Linked DNA regions of Homo sapiens. Changing the gene in region 1 together with any one later gene gives a genetic interaction. Each region holds a gene or a part of one and is shown in the gene's direction. Other genes may lie near its edges.

Evidence for each region.
Region 2: changes in CHD1 (region 1) and EDA together harm fitness less than expected from each alone (positive genetic interaction), as found in Homo sapiens cells (one large-scale study listed by BioGRID).
Region 3: changes in CHD1 (region 1) and PRSS8 together harm fitness less than expected from each alone (positive genetic interaction), as found in Homo sapiens cells (one large-scale study listed by BioGRID).

Annotation. Positions count from the first base shown.
Region 1 is NC_000005.10:98,922,402-98,926,048, reverse strand, and holds part of CHD1 (chromodomain-helicase-DNA-binding protein 1), read left to right. Parts: intron 1-3,647. UniProt on the Homo sapiens protein: ATP-dependent chromatin-remodeling factor which functions as substrate recognition component of the transcription regulatory histone acetylation (HAT) complex SAGA. Regulates polymerase II transcription.
Region 2 is NC_000023.11:70,032,027-70,035,673, forward strand, and holds part of EDA (ectodysplasin-A), read left to right. Parts: intron 1-1,371; coding exon 1,372-1,502; intron 1,503-2,054; coding exon of another isoform or gene 2,055-2,174; exon of another isoform or gene 2,175-3,020; intron 3,021-3,331; coding exon 3,332-3,583; 3' UTR 3,584-3,647. UniProt on the Homo sapiens protein: Cytokine which is involved in epithelial-mesenchymal signaling during morphogenesis of ectodermal organs. Functions as a ligand activating the DEATH-domain containing receptors EDAR and EDA2R. May also play a role in cell adhesion.
Region 3 is NC_000016.10:31,132,895-31,137,153, reverse strand, and holds the start of PRSS8 (prostasin preproprotein), read left to right. Parts: upstream 1-1,426; 5' UTR 1,427-1,655; coding exon 1,656-1,740; intron 1,741-1,982; coding exon 1,983-2,000; intron 2,001-3,765; coding exon 3,766-3,928; intron 3,929-4,200; coding exon 4,201-4,259.

The DNA of each region.
Region 1 (3,647 bases):
GGAGCATGTATAATAGATTTAAATTGTTTTGACTGTTAGTGAAATTTCTAGATGAAGGCAATAAAAATTTTTTCACTCATCTTTTTCTGGCATTTTGTCTTCTATACCTGTACTGTCCAGTGTGGTAACCACTAGCCACATGTGGCTATTTGAACTCAATTACAAAATATTCAGAATTTACTTAGTCATACTAGATATATTTCAAGTGCTGAATAATCACATGTGGCTAGTGGCTACCATATTGGACAGCACATAGAAAACATTCTATCACTGGAGAAAGTTTTAGACAGTGCTGAGCCAGACATTTGTTGAAATATTACTGTGGCCCTTTTTTATTTTCAGATTGGAGTTTTAATTATCTGTGAAGGAGTTAAGAGTTCTTGCTTGGGTCAAGTGTTTGCAAAGAAGATTCTTTAAATTCTGTAGCTCTCAAATTTTGAGTTATCTGCACATTAGTTTACAATCCATGTAGTTATATGCATTATCATATATAGAAATTAGGAATGTGGGCACTGGAGTCAAACTGTTTGCTTACCCTATTTCTACCTCTTATTAGTTGTGTGAATTAGGGCAAATTACTTAATCTCTGAGGCTCTGATTTTTGCCCCATAAAGAGGGGATTAAACTATTGTTTATCTTATTTAAAGTTCACGGCTGGGCTTGTTGGATCCTGTTTGTAATCCCAGCACTTTGAGAGGCTGAGGAAGGAGGATCACTTGAACTCAAAAGTTGGAGACCAGTTTAGGCAGCATAGTGAGACTTTGTCTGTAATTTATAAAAAATAAAATTTAAAAAAAATTTGAGGATTGAGATGCTTCATGTAAAGGGCTTAAAATATTTTCTGAGATAATGAGCACTGAATATTTGCTTATTGTAACCAGCATGTTTTGTGTAACACAGGATACTATATAAAAAAAACATTAATTACAGTGATGGAGACATGGGGGTGGACAAGAAACAGGAAAGTTTTGGCAATTAGGAAGATTAAGAAAAAATGTTAGATAGAAAACTAAATAGTGGTATTTGTATTTGATCTGAAACTTGGACTTTTCTTTTTCTTTTTTTTTTTTTGAGACAGAGTCTTGCTCTGTCGCCCAGGCTGGAGTGCAGTGGTGTGATCCCGGCTCACTGCAACCTCCACCTCCCAGGCTCAAGTGTTTCTCCTACCTCAGCCTCCGGAGTAGCTGGGATTACAGGCGCTAGCCACCACTCCCAGCTAATTTTTGTATTTTTTTTGTAGAGATGGGGTTTCGCCACATTGGCCAGGCTGGTCTCGAACTCCTGGCCTCAAGTGATCCACCTGCCTCGAGCTCCCAAAGTGCTGAGATTATAGGCATGAGCCACCACGCCAGGCCTGACACTTGGAATTTTCTGACCTTGCTAGTTATACTTTAGTTTATCAGCTTTCATACATACTGTTTGGATAAGCAAGAACATCATAGAGAATAAAATAAGGAACAGTTATGGAAAGCAGCATTATTACTTGAACAAGTATTGGTCTAGGAGTTATACAACCTGAGTTGATGCTATCTCTGCATTAATTAAAACTCATATGATTGCCTCAACTCTAAGGATTGAACTGATATTGAAGTTTCATTTTAATTAATTACAAAGTGCATCGTAAAGTTTCAAACAGTAAAGTTTTACTAGAATCACCAGAGTTGAGGTTTAATTAAAAGACTTTTGAATCTGAGCTTTGATTCAAATCTCTATAGGTATGTTGACTACTGACTATAGTTAAGTAAATAGAAGAGTCATATTGTCCACCCACAATTTTTTTTTTCTTTTCTTTTCTTTTGAGACAGGGCCTCACTCTGTCACCCAGGCTGGAGTACAGTTGTGTAGTCTCAGCTCACTGCAGCCTCTGCCTCCACCTCCTGGGCTCAAACGATTCTCCCACCTCAGCATCCTGAAAGGCGTGCATGCCACCACACTCAGCTAATTTTAAAATTTTTTGTAGAGATGAGGTCTCACCATATTGCCTCAGCTGGTCTTGAACTCATGGGCTCAAGCAGTCCTCCCACCTTGGCCTCCCAAAGTGTTGGGATTACAGGTGTGAGCTGCCACACCCGGCCTCACATTTTCTTATTCATAGTTGGAATGGAATGGTTAGTAGGTAGAAATACCTAGAGGAAACAAAGGAACCAAACTATTCATAAAATAGGAGATAAGACTCGAGAGTAAATCTTCTAGTTGGATATGCAGACAGATCATGTGCTGGTATATTCTGACTACTTACCTGTTCCAATATTTTATATATTTTTCTGCCATATCTAAAGCGAGGAGGAGTAATAAGTCCAATTTGATACTACAGGTGAAAAAAAATTAAACCTTGTGGCCGGGTGCGGTGGCTTACGCCTGTAATCCCAGCACTTTGGGAGGCCGAGCAGGCAGATCACCTGAGGTTGGGAGTTCGAGACCACCTTGACCAACATGGAGAAATCCTGTCTCTACCAAAAATACAAAATGAGCTGGGTGTGGTGGCCTGTAATCCCAGCTGCTCGCGAGGCTGAGGCAGGAGAATTGCTTGAACCCAGGAGGCAGACGGAGGTTGCAGTGAGCCGGAGATTGCGCGATTGCACTCCAGCCTGGGAAACAAGTGAAACTCCGTCTCAAAAAAAAAAAAAAAATTAAACCTTGCGAAATCAAATTTAAGGAATCTTTTACAATGCATACTCATCTTAAATAATTGCAAAGCATATTTCTTTAATTATTCGGAGTTGTTAATTCTGCTATACAGGTTTTGTGTGCTTCTGAAAAGTGTGGTTATCAAGTTATCTAGTTTTTACAACTGCCTTGGAGTTTATCAGGAGAGAGACCTTCTTTTTTGCCTTCATTTTCTTTCTTACCGCTGCTATACTATGCTCTACTGTCATTAACACTCAATTCCCACTCCCTTCCCCAGAAGCTTTTGTCATAAGACATTACAAAGAAGGGAGATTGTGCCTAGTTAAAAGACTGAGGAGGTGAACTTTAGAGGTAGAGGGATTTTCTTGCAAAAAAAACTAAAGTTTCTATAACTATGAATATTAATATAGAGTAATTTTTTTTCTTTTTTTTGAGCCAGAGTCTTGCTCTGTCGCCCAGGCTGCAGTGCAGCGGTATGACCTCGGCTCACTGCATCCTCCGCCTACCGAGTTCAAGCAATTTTCCTGCCTCAGCCTCCCGAGTAGCTGGGACTACAGGCATGCACCACTGCATCCAGCTAATTTTTGTATTTTTAGCAGAGACGGTGTTTCGTCATGTTGGCCAGGCTGGTCTCGAACTCCTGACCTCAGGTGATCTGCCCGCCTTGGCCTCCCAAAGCACTGGGGATTACAGGCATGAGCCACCGTGCCTGGCCCCTAATATAATTAGATTAGAAATATACTTTGTTTCTAAAGTTGATATTCATTGTAAGTAGCTTTTTAAAGTAAATTTTGGTTTTTTAGTGGCTAGAATTCTATAATGTATTTTTGCTTCAAAATTTCCTTTTTCTTTTGTGAAAGTTTATTAAACGGAATAGAATTAAGAAAGAATTCATTTGGCATTTGCAGGTTACAGTTAGCTTTCTACTGAAAAAAAAAATTTTTAACTATTCTTTCTGTCTGGAGATCTCTCTATAACTATTCACTGAAAGGAAGAAGAATACACAGGAAAAATATGTC
Region 2 (3,647 bases), on another chromosome or scaffold:
GGCTGGCGGATCACATGAGGCCAAAAGTTTGAGACCAGCCTGGCCAACATGGTGAAACCCCGTCTCCACAAAAAATACAAAAATTAGCTGGGCATAGTGGCACACACCTGTAATCCCAGCTGCTCGGGAGGCTGAGGCAGGAGAATCACTTGAACCCGGGAGGTGGAGGTTGCAGTGAGCCAAGATCACACCACTGCACTCCAGCCTTGGTGACAGAGTGAGTGACAGTCCATCTCAGAAAAAAAAAAAAAAGAAGAAGAAGTGATGGGGTCAGGGGTTGGAGGACGTCATGCAGAGTGGTCCATTGATGGGACAGAGCCAGGGCAGCTCCTAGCCCATCTACTTACCACCTCAAGGAAAGATGGTCACCTTTTCCAGAAAGGCTGTTTCCTCACCCCTCAGACAGGCAGGCCTACTGAAACTGGCCAAAGATGGACTTATAAAATATAATTTCTTGGGTGCAGGATGGATGGCTTAGAGGGGAAAAGGCTCCCTGGGCTTGGATGTCCTCCTCTCATGGTGGGAAGGAACATTCCTCTTTCTGCAGGATGGAAAGAGAAGTTTTTCCTCCATCCTCACACACTGGCTTCCGCTGTCCAAAGGAGTGTGACTGCCCCCTCCACCCCTGCCTGGGGTGGGGCTGAGACAGATGCTTTGCCAAGGGTGGCTCGGCTCCTATCCTCCCAGCTGGCTCTATTGCAGCCTGCCAGTCTATCCTTCACTCTCATAAGGATCCCTCTCACCTATGGGGCCCTGGTACTAGTGGTCAGTAGCCCCAGTTACCATGGAGTCTGAATCATCTCTAATCCCTAAGGTTCTCCAGATAGACAGTGGGCTGAGTGGTTTCCTCCCAGGGAGGCTTTCCAGAAAGCTGTGGGTGTGGAAGAACCGTAAAAAAGAATCTCTTAAGGAGAAAGAGAAAACCCATGAACCTATGAGATGAGAGGGATTCAGGAGCTCTGGCTGGGAAAGTAAAATTGAATAATAAGACCTAGCCTGCCACTCAGTGTCTGAATTTTGCCTGTGCAGGCCCCATAACAACAAAGAAAATAGGGCAGCATGCCCACTCTCATCCTCCACCGGCAAATTCCAGCTAGAAGGTATTGGTTAAAGACCCTTCCAGATGCAAGGGTCAAGAAAGGAAGGATAAAGACAGACAGGCAGAGCCCAGGAGCCCTGAAGCAGGCCTGGCAGCTGCTTTACAAACAGAACAGCTTCTCTGCTTTCAAATGCTCTTCTTAAAGTTTGGCCTTCTAGGCTACCCTGGTTGCACTGGGATAGGGGTGGGGGTTGTGAACTCCTTGGTATTTATTTTCTGTTGCCTCGATTATTCTGACATGTACTGAGTGACTGCCCTTCTCTCATACTGAGATCTTTCAGGTGGAGTGCTCAATGACTGGTCTCGCATCACTATGAACCCCAAGGTGTTTAAGCTACATCCCCGCAGCGGGGAGCTGGAGGTACTGGTGGACGGCACCTACTTCATCTATAGTCAGGTAGAAGTGAGTACGGTCTTAGGCCTAACTCTTCTTATATCCAGAATGCAGATCCGGTGCAGGCCACATAGGGGCACTGTGGAGCCAGCCAAGACCATCCAATGGCTAACTTCCTGCTTTGGGTGAGGGGGTGGGGGGACCGCACTGGGAGGGAGTTGAAAGGAGGAAAGAGAGAGGGGGCCAGCTTCTTTTGTTTTGTTTTGTTTTGTTTTTCCTTAGCCAAATATTATTGAAAAACTGTGAAAAAGACCCCTCCCACACCCTGCCATCTGATTCCCTCCTGCAGGGCCTCAGGCCCCTGTTTACCCTCTGAGCTGTTTGGCTGCACTGCCAAACTTGAACTTGGTCTCAGTACATTCTTTGAAAGTCAGTTCCAGGGTTACTGAGAACCCTTTCCCTCAACACTGCTGGCTCGGACGTTGTAATGAATAGTGCTCCTGCAGACTTTCTTTCCACCTCAAAAAGATTTCTGACTGTCTTTCCTTCCTCTTTCTCCCATTTGTTTCCCTATCTTTCTATTCCTCTATTCTTGCCTCCTTCCTGCTGTCATTCTCCCAGCCCTTTCTCCCTCTGCTTTTGTCCTCTTCCTGCCCTGGGCCCGCTCCCCAAGTCCACCAGTGTCCATCTACTTCCGTTCCCCCATTGTTTGCCTCCATGGGAGTGGCTCCTTGGAGATAAAGGAAGATGAGCCATGAGGTTGGGATTTTTGTGGGATGGGCAGCAAGCAGGCAGGTGGACAGAAGGACTATGGAGCCAACAGATGGGTGTCACATGAGAGCGGCCAGAGAAGGTGGGCTAACAAGCATCTGCTAGGCACACTGAGCACCCCGCTGTAGCTTGGGTCCTGACCCGTATATGGCACCCAAATATGCTGTTCCCACCTGAAGAGCTGATAGAGGGAGTGACCTTTCATAAAATGATTTACGGTGATATCTGAGAGTCCCAACACCCATGGGGCACATGGGCATAACCCTGATGTCCTGTGAGCCAAGTTCCACGTGGTGGGGGTGGGCGGCAGATCAAAACTTGGTGTGAGGTATGATGGATAAGGGTAGTGAAGGATGGAAAAATTAATTTTCTGAGCCTAGGAGAGAATTGAGAGTGGCCCATGCAGGCTGGGAAAATCCCCATGACATTAGGCCACTGAGCATAAGTTAGTGCTTCCTTCTGGCCACAAAGTTAGGGGCCTGGGCTTTTCCAAATTCTTTGTCTTGTTTGTGGTAGCTAGCTCTCGATCTCTCTGGACCTGTTTCCTCAATCATCAGATGGGAGGCCCAAGGGGCACTGTGAATCAGTGAGGGGAGTCCAGGCCCAGGGGAGGGGTGGTGCAAGCTGAATAAGCTTCTGTTAAGGAGCTCAAGAAATCACAAGTTGTTACATGCCCTCTCTGGGGAATCAGTGACTTCTAAGTTTCTCCACAAATAGTCCGTGGGGCTCAAGAATGGAAGTCAGTTTGTGTCCACGGCACTGTGTACACACCTGCTACGTGCAGAGCACTCTGCTTCATGTCAGGGCTGGGGCAGGGGTGGGCGGGGGAACAGGGGCACGGTGAAGCTGCAAATAGGGCATGGTTCTTAGCCTTACAGAGTTTGCGACAAGTGTGCTGTTGTAAGAAAAGTTTGCTCAGCCAGCTGAGCCCCATGGACTAGGGGAAGAACAATGCCTGTCACCTGTCCTTTCCTGTTGGCCAGCTAGCACGCCTTCACATGGCACTGCCCCATCCATGGGGTATACTAACAGCTCATCTGAGAAGATTCTGTCAATTCACCACAGGGAGGGCCCCCCACCCTCTCTTTCCTCTCTTCCCCAATCCCTTCTTGTTGCCTCTCACTCAGGTATACTACATCAACTTCACTGACTTTGCCAGCTATGAGGTGGTGGTGGATGAGAAGCCCTTCCTGCAGTGCACACGCAGCATCGAGACGGGCAAGACCAACTACAACACTTGCTATACCGCAGGCGTCTGCCTCCTCAAGGCCCGGCAGAAGATCGCCGTCAAGATGGTGCACGCTGACATCTCCATCAACATGAGCAAGCACACCACGTTCTTTGGGGCCATCAGGCTGGGTGAAGCCCCTGCATCCTAGATTCCCCCCATTTTGCCTCTGTCCGTGCCCCTTCCCTGGGTTTGGGAGCCAGGACTCCCAGAAC
Region 3 (4,259 bases), on another chromosome or scaffold:
CCATGTTGTTCAGGATGGTCTCAAACTCCTGACCTCGTGATTCGTGTGCCTTGGCCTCCCAAAGTGCCGAGATTAGAGGCGTGAGCCACCACACCCAGCCTCAACAGGTGTTTTGAACGGCCAGAGTGGCCCTCAAGGAGGATACATGCCTCACTCCCACCGCAGCCACACGGCAAGCCTTCTTTCCCTGAGCCTCTGCCCTCTGCACCCCATCCCCCCATCTTCGCCTTACCACCTTTTATAATCCCTTTCGGTCTCAGTTTCCAAGGCAATTCCTCGAGGACCCTTTCACAATGCCAGCCTTTGCCAGGCTGTGGTGTGCTCACGCCATTCTTTTTCATCACTATTCCTAGCTTGAAATTATTGTGTAATTGCAATTTTTTTTTTTAAGACAGGGTCTCCCTCTGTTGCCCAGGCTGGAGTGCAGTGGCGTGATCATAGCTCAATGCTTCGTTGAACTCCTGGGCTCAAGCAATCCTCCTGCCTCAGCCTCCCAAATAGCTGGAACCATAGGCATGCGCCACAATGCCTGCCTAATTTTTATATTTCTTTGTAGAGATGAGGCCTCGCTATATTCCCCAGGCTGGTCTGGAACTCCTGGCTTCAAGTGATGCTCCAGCCTCAGCCTCCCAAAGCCGACTAGCCACCTTGCCAGCCTGTTTGTGATTATTTGATTGAAGTGTGTCACCCCTACTTCACCATGAGCTCAGGGCTCAAGGGGGACGGGGCTGGTGCCTGTTTTGTCCTGGACACCTGGGAACATCATAGGCACTTAGGAAATGTCTGTGGGATGATTGGTGCTGCTCCACAAGCTCGCCACCACCCATGAGGTGCAGGCATCGCAGAAAGGGCCTGGCAGGGGACAGACCATAGTGTCTTAAGCTCCCATAACCAGCCTAAGGAGGGAGGGAAGAAGGGAGGAGTGGCTGTGGCTCCAGATAATAAAAGCTGGGGCCAGGCCCTGGGGGGCATAACTGGCCTGAGATAACCTGAAAGACCTGAGGCGGAGGAGAGTCGTCACATTCCAGGGAGACTGCACACACACACAAACCACATGCACGTGCATGCACGCACACTCAGACACACACACTACACACACAGGGACACACACAGCCTACACATGTGCACATACAGCCTGTACATGCACACACACACACATACCACACCACATAAGAGGACACACACAGCCTACACAGGCATACACACACACCACATACACACTACACACCGGGACACACACACAAAAGGCCTATGCATGTGCACACACATACACACGGACACATACATGCACACACACGGGCCTGCAGCTCTGAAAGGACTCATGACTTTGGTGGCAAGAGGAGCTGGCGGAGCCCAGCCAGTGGGCGGGGCCAGGGGAGGGGCGGGCAGGTAGGTGCAGCCACTCCTGGGAGGACCCTGCGTGGCCAGACGGTGCTGGTGACTCGTCCACACTGCTCGCTTCGGATACTCCAGGCGTCTCCCGTTGCGGCCGCTCCCTGCCTTAGAGGCCAGCCTTGGACACTTGCTGCCCCTTTCCAGCCCGGATTCTGGGATCCTTCCCTCTGAGCCAACATCTGGGTCCTGCCTTCGACACCACCCCAAGGCTTCCTACCTTGCGTGCCTGGAGTCTGCCCCAGGGGCCCTTGTCCTGGGCCATGGCCCAGAAGGGGGTCCTGGGGCCTGGGCAGCTGGGGGCTGTGGCCATTCTGCTCTATCTTGGATTACTCCGGTCGGGGACAGGTAAGTGAGGACGTGGGGGCAGGGTGGGGACAATGCACTGGAGGGAGCCGGCGTGATCATTTTCTGGGGTGTGCCCTTGTCTGGGGCCCAAGAAAACCCCCGGCCTCCCTAGCTCTTGGCCTCTCTTTCCCACCTTGGCTCTGTCAGGGAAGGGGCCAGCCCTCTGGAGCAGTGGTGGGTACTAAGGGGTCAGGGAACCCGAGTCTTCCCTACTCACCCCTCCTCTTTCTCTTTCTTTCTAGGAGCGGAAGGGGCAGAAGGTGAGACTTTCCTCGGAGAGGGAGGAGGGGAGGGGGAGGTGACTTGGATCGGATTCCCCTGGGGTTTAACCAGTGCCTGGCCTTCAGCTGGGCTGCCTTCCAACTAGATTCTCTTAGGGCTCCCAGAGTGGGGGGTTTTAGCCCTCACCTTATGGGCAGAGAAGCAGGGACTTGCCCAGGGCACACTGCCAGTGAAGGTGCAGCTGGGATTCAGATCCACGTCTGACTCCCAAAGTGGGGCAATCGAGGTGGTTTTTTTGGTTTGGTTTTTGTCTTTTGAAACAGGGTCTGGGTCTGTCGTCACCCAGGCTGGAGTGCAGTGGCCCGATCGCAGCTCACTGCAGTCTCAGTGATCCAGCCTCCCGGGCTCACGTGATCCTCCCACCTCCCCACCTCAGCCTCCCTAGTGGCTGGGACTACAGGTGCATGCCATCACACCCAGCTAGTTGTGTTTTGTTTTTGTTTTTGTTTTTGTTTGGTAGAGATGTGGGTCTCACTATGTTGGCCGGGCAGGTCTTGAACTCCTGGGCTCAAGCGATCCTCCTGCCTTGGCCTCTCAAAGTGCTGGGATTACAGGTGTGAGCCACCGTTCCCATCCTGGAGGTGGTTTTGAGGGAACCAAACCAAGGGTCTCCTTTCTTGGAAGGCACCCAACCCAGCTCTGAGTCAGACCGGCTTTCAATCCTGGCTTCCCCATGCACTGGCTGTGTGTCATTGGCCAAGTCCCCCCACTTCTCTAAGCCTTAGACTCCTCACCTCTAAAATGAAGCTGGTCATGTCCGTCTCCTGGGGCTGTGGAGAGGATGCAGGGAGATGAGGAAGCGAAAGCCCCTCCAGGGCCTGGCACAGCCGCTAGGCTCTCTAAATAGTGGCTATTGTCATGATGATAAGGGAGAGAAAGATCTGGTCTGCAATTTTCTCTGCTCCTAGATGACTTTGTGAAGAGCAGTTGGGCTCCACTCCAAAGTGGCCTCAATGGGGGTGGGGCTGGGGCTGTCCTGGAAACTAGACATTCACATCACAGGAGCCCAGTTCTGCTGTTGGTTTGTTGAATATATGTCCACGACGCCACAGGCACTGCAGACATGAGAATCTGCCCCTAGGGAATGCCCAGATTGGTGTGGTGGAAACAGACACAGTTGTGGACTCCGGAACAATTGTGAGACTGGGCAGCATCGGGGAGCATGGTGGAGGTTGGGGGGTGCTGGGCTCGGAGGCAATGCCCAACTCAGCCAGCAGAAGCCCGCCTGTCTACGGAGGGGCTGCTGTTCCAATCAAGCATCCACAGGCAAAGGGAAGTTTGCCAGACAGTAAGGATGGGGAAGGGCATACCAGGTAGAGTGACCTGGATCAGCCAAGGTCCCGGGTAAACAAGTGTGTGGCCTGATGTACACAACTGAAGGGTCCAGAGGGGACGGCTGGGTCCGATGGCGGTGCCATGGTCTGTCTGGAATGTATCTTAAGGACCGCGTGGAGCCAAGAAGGGTTTAAGCAGGGCTGTGGCCTGGTCAGATTGGGGGTTTATGAAAATCTTCAGACTTGTAAGGGGCGGGATGGATGGAAGGCTTGCAAGGAGAGAAGCTGCCATGAGACCTGAATTAGGTAATGGGTAGTGGACAGAAGGGGCACAACTGCCCATGCCTGGGAGGGGACAAAGGGGTGTTGACTCCTGTGAACCCACTTCCCAAGCTCTATATCAGAGCTCCTGGGCTGCATAGGAGTGGCCAGGCTAACAACCTGACCCCTTCCCTTCCTCCCTGGGCAGCTCCCTGCGGTGTGGCCCCCCAAGCACGCATCACAGGTGGCAGCAGTGCAGTCGCCGGTCAGTGGCCCTGGCAGGTCAGCATCACCTATGAAGGCGTCCATGTGTGTGGTGGCTCTCTCGTGTCTGAGCAGTGGGTGCTGTCAGCTGCTCACTGCTTCCCCAGGTACCAAATGGTGAAAGTCAAAAGTGGGCTGGAGGTCAAAGTTAATGGGTCAATCCAGGTCAGAGGTTGGGGTTCTTGGGTTGGGTCTGAGAGTGTCAGTTCTAAGTCTGGAAGGACCAGTTAGGAGTGAAGGTGAGGGGTCAGAGGTTACATGATAAAACTAAGGTGCAATTTGAGACCTAAAAGGGGCTGATCGGAATCAGGGGTTGGCAGTGGGGGTTGGGGAACAAGGAGAGGTCTCCTGGGTCTCAGCCTTTGCCCCCTGCCTGCAGCGAGCACCACAAGGAAGCCTATGAGGTCAAGCTGGGGGCCCACCAGCTAGACTCCTACT